Linked DNA regions of Homo sapiens: region 2 is linked to region 1. Evidence: fine-mapped expression QTL. A gene starts in region 1. The other region holds a variant in brackets. All regions are shown on one strand. Distances are between the middles of the regions. Region 1 holds the start of SLC75A1 (solute carrier family 75 member 1). Region 2 overlaps GRK4 (G protein-coupled receptor kinase 4).

Evidence for each region. PIP is the estimated chance that this variant, and not a neighbour inherited with it, causes the effect. A credible set is the group of variants that fine-mapping cannot tell apart.
Region 2: its variant is the best candidate, but not a certain one, in a credible set for the expression of SLC75A1 in blood mononuclear cells (TOPMed, PIP 0.70).

The regions. Positions count from the first base shown.
Region 1 is chr4:2,932,674-2,937,046 of GRCh38, reverse strand. It overlaps SLC75A1 (solute carrier family 75 member 1), which reads left to right and starts at 2,222. Exons shown (of 13, transcript NM_001146069.2): 1 at 2,222-2,278; 2 at 3,103-3,294; 3 at 3,384-3,480; 4 at 3,838-3,941; 5 at 4,289-4,373. The coding sequence starts at 3,124. NOP14-AS1 (NOP14 antisense RNA 1) reads right to left here and starts at 1,501. Exons shown (of 4, transcript NR_015453.2): 1 at 1-1,501. RefSeq lists enhancers at 143-382, 185-1,384, 2,642-3,509, 3,602-3,731, 3,752-3,981 and silencers at 1,773-1,882, 2,043-2,352, 2,582-2,801.
Region 2 is chr4:3,022,675-3,027,057 of GRCh38, reverse strand. All of the region lies in intron 10 of GRK4 (G protein-coupled receptor kinase 4), which reads right to left. Among named protein-coding and RNA genes, the nearest start is that of HTT, 50 kb to the left of the region's middle. The variant C/T (reference allele first, on the strand shown) is at 1,883.

The sequences.
Region 1 (4,373 bases):
GCAGTTACTGCCGCGGTTGGGCTGCCTGGTAGGCCTGGAGCTCAAAATGAGTCAGTCTCTCTCTGGAAAGCGCAAGACAGAGACAGCGCTGGTGGCAGCTGGGCTGAAGCCAGCAGCTTGGAGATGAGGCTCAGGCCCTGACGGGGGAAATCTTACCCAGCCTCCCCAGATGGCTCAGAGACAGGTCTGGCAGGTGCACGGATCCACAAATCTAGAAGAGTCTGGGGTTGTCACATCCACCAACTAGGCTGGCTGTCTATATACACTTTGTCACTGTGTAGGCCCAGGATTTCACCCATCTACAAATTTTCTCTGCCACACGGCTACTGCCACTTTAATTCACCAAGCCAAGCCTTTGCACTCAGGACCCTGGCCCAACCCTCTTTGGCCAAGCAAAGAGGAAACGAGAACAGGACAGAAAAAAAAGTGGGACCGGACCAGGCACCTGGCTGTCCATTGAGGCCTTGCTATGCGATCCAGGACGGAAGGTGCCGGCAGCAAGCTCATACACTCTAGCTGCGTGTCATGTCATTGAAGAGGGCGCGTGATCCAGCTGGAAGGGTGGATAAAAGTGTAACTGCCCAGTGGGTTCACCTTCCCTGTTACCTAGACAGCCAATTTATCAAGAAAGGGCATTTGCAACAGAGAAAAGGTAATTCACGCAGAGCTAGCTGTGTGGGAGACTGGAGTTTTATTATTACTCGGTCTCCCTGAGCATCTGGGGTTTGGAGTTTTTAAAGATAAGCTGGTGGGTGGGGGGCAGCCAGTGAGTCAGAAGTACCCATTGGTCAGGTCAGAGATGAAATCACAGGGAGTCGAAGCTGTTTTCGCACTGAGTCAGTTCCTGGGTGCCACAACATCAGATGAGCCTGGGTGGTGCCAGGTGACCCACCAAGTGCTGATCTTAGGCTTTACGATGGTGATGTTATCGCCAGGAGCAGTTTGGGGAGGGTCAGAATCCTGTAGCCTCCCGCTGCGTGACTCTTCAACCGTAGTTTCTAATCTTGTGGCTAATCTGTTGGTCCCACAAAAGCAGGCTAATCCCCAGGAAAGGTTTCCTTTGGGAAAGGGCTGTTATCATCTTTGTTTTAAACTAAGTTCCTCCCACAGTTCAACCTGCGTGCAGCAGTAAACAAGGAGGGCATGGAGGTTAGAAGCAAAATGGAGCTGGTTATCTCACTGTCGGCAAATTTTGCAATGGCAGTTTCATAGAGATGCCTGTCCTCTGGGAAAAAAGCTAATAACAGGTTGTCTTTTTGGCTGCAGGTGGAAAACTGCATCTATTAGGAAGAGGTGGGGCTTTGTTCTTACCCACAATTGGAAGTTCTCTATGGAGTAAAGGCGGTATGTGTGCCACCTGATTCCTTTCCCCATGTGTATCTGGTTAGGGTCGGCCACGTGAGATCCGCAAGCATTTTAGAAGGTGGGAGGGGAGGTGGGAGCTGGCTACAGGCCAGGCGTTGGCGTGGTTCCGTGAGTGTGCTCCAGCCAGGCCCAAAGCTTCTCCTGCCCAGAGGGACCGTTTCCTCCAGCGTGGGTCGGGTGCTTCTGCGCCCGGAAAGAGCGCCAGCTCCTCCTTCGGGTGACCCAGGGAGCGGGGCTGCAGGCAAAGGCGCAGGCGGCCAAAAAGGTGCCAACCGGGTCCTGTGGCTTTCAGTTGTCTCTGCCCACCCAATTCACACCATCTTTCCCCCTCAGCCGCCTGTCCTGGGACTTCAGGCTCAGCACCAAACGCAGCAAAAGTAGGTGCACAGAGAGCGGGGTCAGCTCACGCAGCCCGAGCAGAATGGCTGTGCTGCCGCCCCAGGCCCGCGGCCACCGCTGTGTGTGTGGCAGGAGTCAGCCCCCCAGCGTGGGGCCCCGAAGCCCGCGGTCCTTCCACGGGGAGGGCCAGGCCCGCAGGGCGCAGACGATGGGGGACAGGCTGCGCCAGCGCTCGCCTGAGGCCCCGCACACAAACCTCAGGCCCATGGGTCCGCTCCGCGGGGCAGGCGTCGTGGGCCCAAGGAGGCCAGGCCAGGAGTCTCGGCCTCGGGGTTACGCGGCGGCGGGCAGCTCTTCCGCTCCGCTCAGGGTGCTGCTAACCCACAGCCAAGCAGCGACCCGCAGGACCGGCGAGAACCCCGCCACTGACTCCGGCCGGAAGAGAACGTGCAGAGATGTACGTCACTTCCGGGGCGTGGCGTGGCCGGGCGTGGCCGTCCCGCCCCTGGCGGCGTGCCTGGTGCCCTGTTCCGCGTCTGTGCGACCGTCCGTCCCGAGCGCGCAGCCGCGGCAGGTGCGGGGCGGGACCGGGGGCGCCCGGGGTGGGGGGCGTAGGGGGCGCTCGGGTTGGGGGTGGGACAGGGGACGCGCGGGGTGGGGGAGGAGACGGGACCCGGGGTACGCGGGGGTGGGGCGGGTGAGAGGTGCGCAGGGTAGGGGAGTAGGGGGCGCGCGGGGTGTGGGGCTGGACCAGGGGCGCGCGGGGTGGGGGCGGTGGGAGGCGCGCGGCGTGGGGGTTAGAGGGCGCGCAGGGTGGGGGACGGGACCGGGGACGCGCAGGGTGGGGGGCGGGACCGGGGGCGCGCGGGGTGGGGGCGGGACCGGGACGCACGCGGGATGGCGGAGTGGGAGGCGCGCGGGGTTGGGGGTGCTCCTGCGTCCGGTGTGCACCCCATGGCCCCCGCCAGGGAGACCGAGTCCGGGCCAGGGGCCGGAATCGCGGGGCGCGGGCCGGGGCTGGGGTTGGGGTTGGGATCGGGATCGGGATCGGGATCGGGATCCGGGTTCCCCGCGGCTTCAAGTTTTCTCTCGCTGTTACGAGGGCGTGGGAGGCGCGGCCGTGGGGTGGGGTGGGGCCAGGTCCGCGATGTGCTCACCCTGGTCTCTCAGGACCGTTGCCTTTGCGGCTATTTTTTGTGCAATCCCCGAAGCCTGCGTTTCCTGCTGCCTGGGTTCGGGGCGGGGGCATCGCGCAGGCCAGAACGGCCCCTGCGTCCGTAGGCCAGAGCCCCTGCCATCAGCCCCTTTAGGGTGCTCGCCGGCTGTCGGGTGTGGGGGTATGCCAGGCCCCGGAGGACTCGGCTTCCCCGCTAACCCGACCCGCCGCACCCCACCCAGGCCAGGTCAGAGCAGCCCACCATGGGATGGGGAGGGGGTGGAGGCTGCACCCCGCGCCCACCCATCCACCAGCAGCCGCCGGAGCGCCGCGTGGTCACCGTTGTCTTTCTCGGCCTCCTGCTGGACCTCCTGGCCTTCACGCTGCTGCTGCCCCTGCTGCCCGGGCTGTTGGAGAGCCACGGCCGTGCCCACGTGAGTCCTTGCCCTGCGGCCCACAGTGCCCCCTGCCCCCCAGGCCCATCAGACCTCCCCAGCCCTTATCGTGATTCCTCATCCCCTAGGACCCCCTCTATGGCTCCTGGCAGGGCGGGGTGGACTGGTTTGCCACCGCCATCGGGATGCCAGTGGAGAAGAGGTACAACAGTGTCCTGTTCGGAGGTATGGCTGGCTCTGTGCCCTTGGCGGGCTCTCTACGGTCCTATGTTTGGTGGACGTGGTCCAGCCCAGGCCCCTCCCCAATTCTCGGTCCTTGCCTTCCCACTCCCTGGGCTGGCATGTCTGGTGCCCTTGCCCACATGTCCTGGCTTCTGGGCATGATCCCTTGCCTCCGCGTGTCACGTTCAGATCCTTCCTCATCTCTCCATTGGGGCCCCCTCGGCTCAAGGGCCATGGCCTGTGAGTGTAGGGCCCAGCATGACTGGACCCTCAGGACGGGGCTGGACATTGGCCTTGAGGGCCCCAAGACCACAGCTCATGGTGCCAGGCAGCCCCATGATGGTGACATCTGTCTCTCAGGTCTCATTGGCTCGGCATTCTCTGTCCTGCAGTTTCTGTGTGCGCCACTCACTGGGGCCACCTCTGACTGCTTGGGGAGGCGCCCGGTGATGCTGCTGTGCCTGGTATGTTCCTGGGCCTGGGTGCCCATGGGGAAGCCTCCTCCCACCCAGCCAGTAGCCCCATGGGGTTAGGTGGGGAGAGGGAGGTGGCTGTGGGCCCCTCATGGCCACTGGTTGGCCCTCATCGCATCCTGGAGGGGGTTCTCGGGGGACCAGTGGCTCCTGTTCCAGAGCCAGGCTTTCAAGGAGCTGCTCCTGGCCCCTAGGAAGGCACTGAGAACGCAAGTGGCCCTCAGATGCTTCGAAATAGGGCAGGGTTGAGGGGTGTTGTCTGGGTTGCCAAGCCCTACTCTGAGCCACTCCTGGCCTTAAGCGACCGCCCCTGCCTCTTGGCCCCTGCCCCTGGGCAGATGGGTGTGGCCACCTCATATGCAGTCTGGGCCACCTCTCGGAGCTTTGCGGCCTTCCTGGCCTCCAGGCTGATTGGGGGCATCA
Region 2 (4,383 bases), 90 kb before region 1:
AAAGAAAATACGAAATTATCGAAAACATTCTGTTGAGTGTGTAGAAAGATTAGCCAGCCCTGGAAGCGGACACTATCTTCAACTTATTCACCACTTATCCTCAGCTTCTAATATCATACCCTGGCCTACAGTAGGTGCTCAATAAATATTTATTGGTGAAATGAATGAATAACCAATAAATGTTTGCTAAAAACTAAAAATATGCGACATGCCCTCCAAGGCACTGTAGTCATTTTAAAACAGTCTGCATGATGCTTTAGAGAGGAAAGCCGGCCTCTGACTCAGATGCATGCACGTGATACACCACACCCCGCCCTTGCTGCGCGCCCACCCTGGGAGGCGGGAGAGCACAGGGGTGAGGAGCACAGACCCAGCCCGATGGCGTGGGTCTGAGTCCTGGCTCTGCCATGTACTATCATGTCTCAGTTTCCTCCCCTTGTACAGATGCATTCTTTCAATAATCCACATTTCATTTTCTTTTCTTTTCTTTTGTAGAGACAGGGTTTGGTCATGTTGCCCAGGCTGGTCTTGAACTCCTGGGCTCAAGCGATCCTCCCACCCTGGCCTCCCAAAGTGCTGGGATTACAGGCGTGAGCCACCGTGCCTGGCCAGCTTTCGTGTATTTTTCATTTAAGTAGAGTGCTAACATGTTGTGACTTATTTTTTTCGTATCATTGTCTTATTTTTCTTATAAAAATGGATTTTTAAACTGAGAAATGCAACTTAAAACTACACTGAAATACCAATTCCCAGCTAACAAACTGACAAAAACTCCAAAGTTCGAGAACTCGGTCTGCTGGCGAGGCTGTGGGGAAACAGGTGCTCTCGTGCACTGCTGGTGGGAATGCAGACGGGAAACACCCTGGAGCGGAATCTGGCAATATCTGACAAATTGCGTATGAATTCACCCACTTCTAGGACTCTATCAAGGATACATTCAACGAAATAGGAAATTACATGTGCCCAAGGCTCTCCATCGCGGCACCAACGGAAACAGCACCGGTGGAGATGACACGCTTACCAGCGAGGGCTGCGCAAACAGGTCAGGTTCGCCTGCAGGAGGCACAGCAGACGGACGGAAGCCGTCCATGAGTGTTGCAGAGCCATCTCCACCGTATATTCAGTGAAATAGCCACGTGGAGGACAATACATGTGGTCTACTACTTTATTTAAGAAATGAGTGGGGAACAAATATATCTATACATATATAGTATGTAAATGAAGGAATGAAATATGAGTTAAAATAATTACTTGGGGATGGTCAGGGATGGAATCTAGACATCTTACGATACACTCTATTTTGCGGTGTTATCTTTGGAACCACATAAATGTTTTACATAATTATAACATTAAAAAATTAGATTGCTGGCCGGGCGCGGTGCTCAAGCCTGTAATCCCAGCACTTTGGGAGGCCGAGGCGGGCGGATCACAAGGTCAGGAGATCGAGACCATCCTGGCTAACACGGTGAAACCCCGTCTCTACTAAAAAAAATATAAAAAATTAGCCGGGCGTGGTGGCGGGCGCCTGTAGTCCCAGCTGCTTGGGAGGCTGAGGCAGGAGAATGGCATGAACCTGGGAGGCGGAGCTTACAGTGAGCCGAGATCACGCCACTGCACACCAGCCTGGGCGACAGAGCAAGACTCCGTCTCAAAAAAAAAAAAAAAAAAAATTAGATCGCTAAAAATTGAAAGCAAAATTAAGAAAATGAACCTAATGGTGTATCCAGCTGGTGGTTTAACCGCACAGAAGGGAATGATACTGAGTGACTTTTTTTTTTTTTTTTTTTGAGACAGAGTCTCACTCTGTCACCTAGGCTGGAGTGCAATGGCTTGATTTCAGCTCACTGCAACCTCCGCCTCCCAGGTTCAAGCGATTCTTCTG[C/T]CTCAGCCCCTCAAGTAGCTGGGACTACAGGCATGTATTACCACACCCAGCTAATTTTTGTATTTTTAGTAGAGACAGGGTTTCACCATGTTGGCCAGGCTGGTCTTGAACTCCTGACTTCAGGTGATCCACCTGCCTTGGCCTCCCAAAATATTGGGATTACAGGCAAGAGCCACTGTGCCCGGCCTCTGAGTGACTTTAAATTAATTTGAGTGAACAACCCTAGAACCAAAGAACTTTTGCTAATGACTAAAAGAACTGCAAAGAAATATTTTACTGGTTTTGTTGTTGTTGTTGTTGTTTGTTTGTTTGTTTTTTGAGACGGAGTCTCACTCTGTCGCCCAGGCTGGAGTGTAGTGGTGCAATCTCGGCTCACTGCAACCTCTGCCGCCCGGGTTCAAGCGATTCTCCTGCCTCGGCCTCCTGAGTAGCTGGGATTAGAGGTGCACTGCCACGCCCGGCTAATTTTTGTATTTTTAGTAGAGACAGGGTTTCACCATGTTGGCCAGGCTGGTCTCGAACTCTTGACCTCAAGTGATCCACCTGCCTCAGCCTCCCAAAGTACTAGGATTATAGGTACAAGCCCCACACCTGGCCTACAATTTTTTAAAATTAGCCAGATATGGTGGCTCATGCCTGTATTCCCAGCTACTCAGGAGGCTGAGGCAAGGCGGATCGCTACAGCCCTGGAGGTCAAAACTGCAGTGAGGCATAATTGCACCGTAACAACTAAAATATCCTTAATCGCTGCTGGATGTGGTGGTGCATGCCTGAAACTCCAGCTACGTGGGAGGCTGAGGCAGGAGGGTCGCTTAGGCCCAGGAGTTTCAGGTTGTAATTGTGCCACAATCGCACCTGTGAGTAGCTACTGCACCCAGCCTGGGTAGCATAGAGAGACCCTGACCTTAAAAAGAACTTTAAAAAAAGGAAAACTGTGGTCATCGGCATCAGAGGACTGTGGTCCCCAAGAGAAGAGACAGGGAACTGGCCCAGCAACCATCCTGGCATCCCACCCGGGAGTGCCTTTCAGATCGTGGCGCAGGAGGGGAACCTGGGCAGAGCAGGGGTCTTGCTAAGTTAGCCAGGCAGGAGTTAGCACTGGGGAAAGACAGCTCAGCTCAAACATGTGGGGTAAAGTTCTAAAGAAGAGAGAACTACACAGAAAAATCTCCTAAAAACACAGAAAAAGGTTATCAGTGTGCTCCCCTGCCTTGTTATCACTTCTAACCATTTCTCATGATTGTCCCTTTATGTTTCTTTATGTTTATGAGCAAGCACACTACACACAATTCCCTGCTTTGTTTACACAAAAGGGAGCACACTACACACACACTCTGCACCGTACCCTGTTCCGATCAACCACATAGCTTGGAGATTGCTCCACTTTGCATACAGAGCACGTTCTACCTACCCTTGTTAAGCCTTTTAACAACTCAGTAAGTGAGCAGCTTCGCTTAGTGCCCTCCCCACCCAAAGCCACCTCTGGTGAGCAGCACAGCACCAGGAATGAACCACAGGCTAAGTCAGGAGCTACGGACACAACCTTGGACAAGTCTGATTCCTAAATCTTGGTATCGCCTTCCATTAAATGAGAATTCCAGTACCCTCCTTCCTCACAGGGCAGGGTGTCATACATGAATTAGATAAGCATGAAAGCATCTGGCAGAGGCATAAAAGGAGACTAGCATTCCAAGTCCCCCACGACTGCCCTCAATCTCCGCCTTAGACGCCTGTCCTCTTCTCGGCAGGAGCCACTGACCTTGCCATGTGTGCTCTACTAGACTGTAAGACCCTTCTTTGCCAAGAAAACTCACTTGAAAGAAGCTCTCTCCCAGCACTGCTTGTGAGCTATGTGTGAGCACAACCACCCTCCCCAGCAGTGCAACCATCCTTGCATTCTGGGTATGACTCTCCCTTAGAGGAACCAAGGTGGAGTGTGCACCCATGCTGCAGACAAGGAGCCTGCTGAAAAGGGCCACTCCCTGTCCACTATTACAGGGTCTCCAAGCAGCCATCTGCACCCTGCTCTGTGACACATGCTATGTGACAAGAGGACAGCACCAGGGGCAACATGACAAAGTTTAGAGGGGAATGGAAATAAAAAAGAATAAAGCAAGAGGTGGGTCAACAGCAAGAAACAAGAGGGAGAAAACGTTCTGACTTTGTGTTTACTTTAATGTGCTTCTAGGTGGGGCACAGTGGCTTATGCCTGTAACCCTAGTGCTTTGGGAGGGAAGGCAGGAGGACTGCTTGAGGGCAGTAGTTTGAGAACAGCCTGGGCAACATAGCATGACCCCTATCTCTACAAAAAAAATTTAAAAATTAGCCAAGCATGGTGGCGCACAGCTGTAGTCCCAGCTATGCAGAAAGCTGAGATGGGAGGGTCATTTGAGCCCAGTAGTTCAAGGCTGCAGTGAGCTATGATTACACCACTGCACTCCAGCCTGGGCGACACAGCAAGACCCTGACTTAAAAAAAAAGGCTTCTAAAACTCAATCATT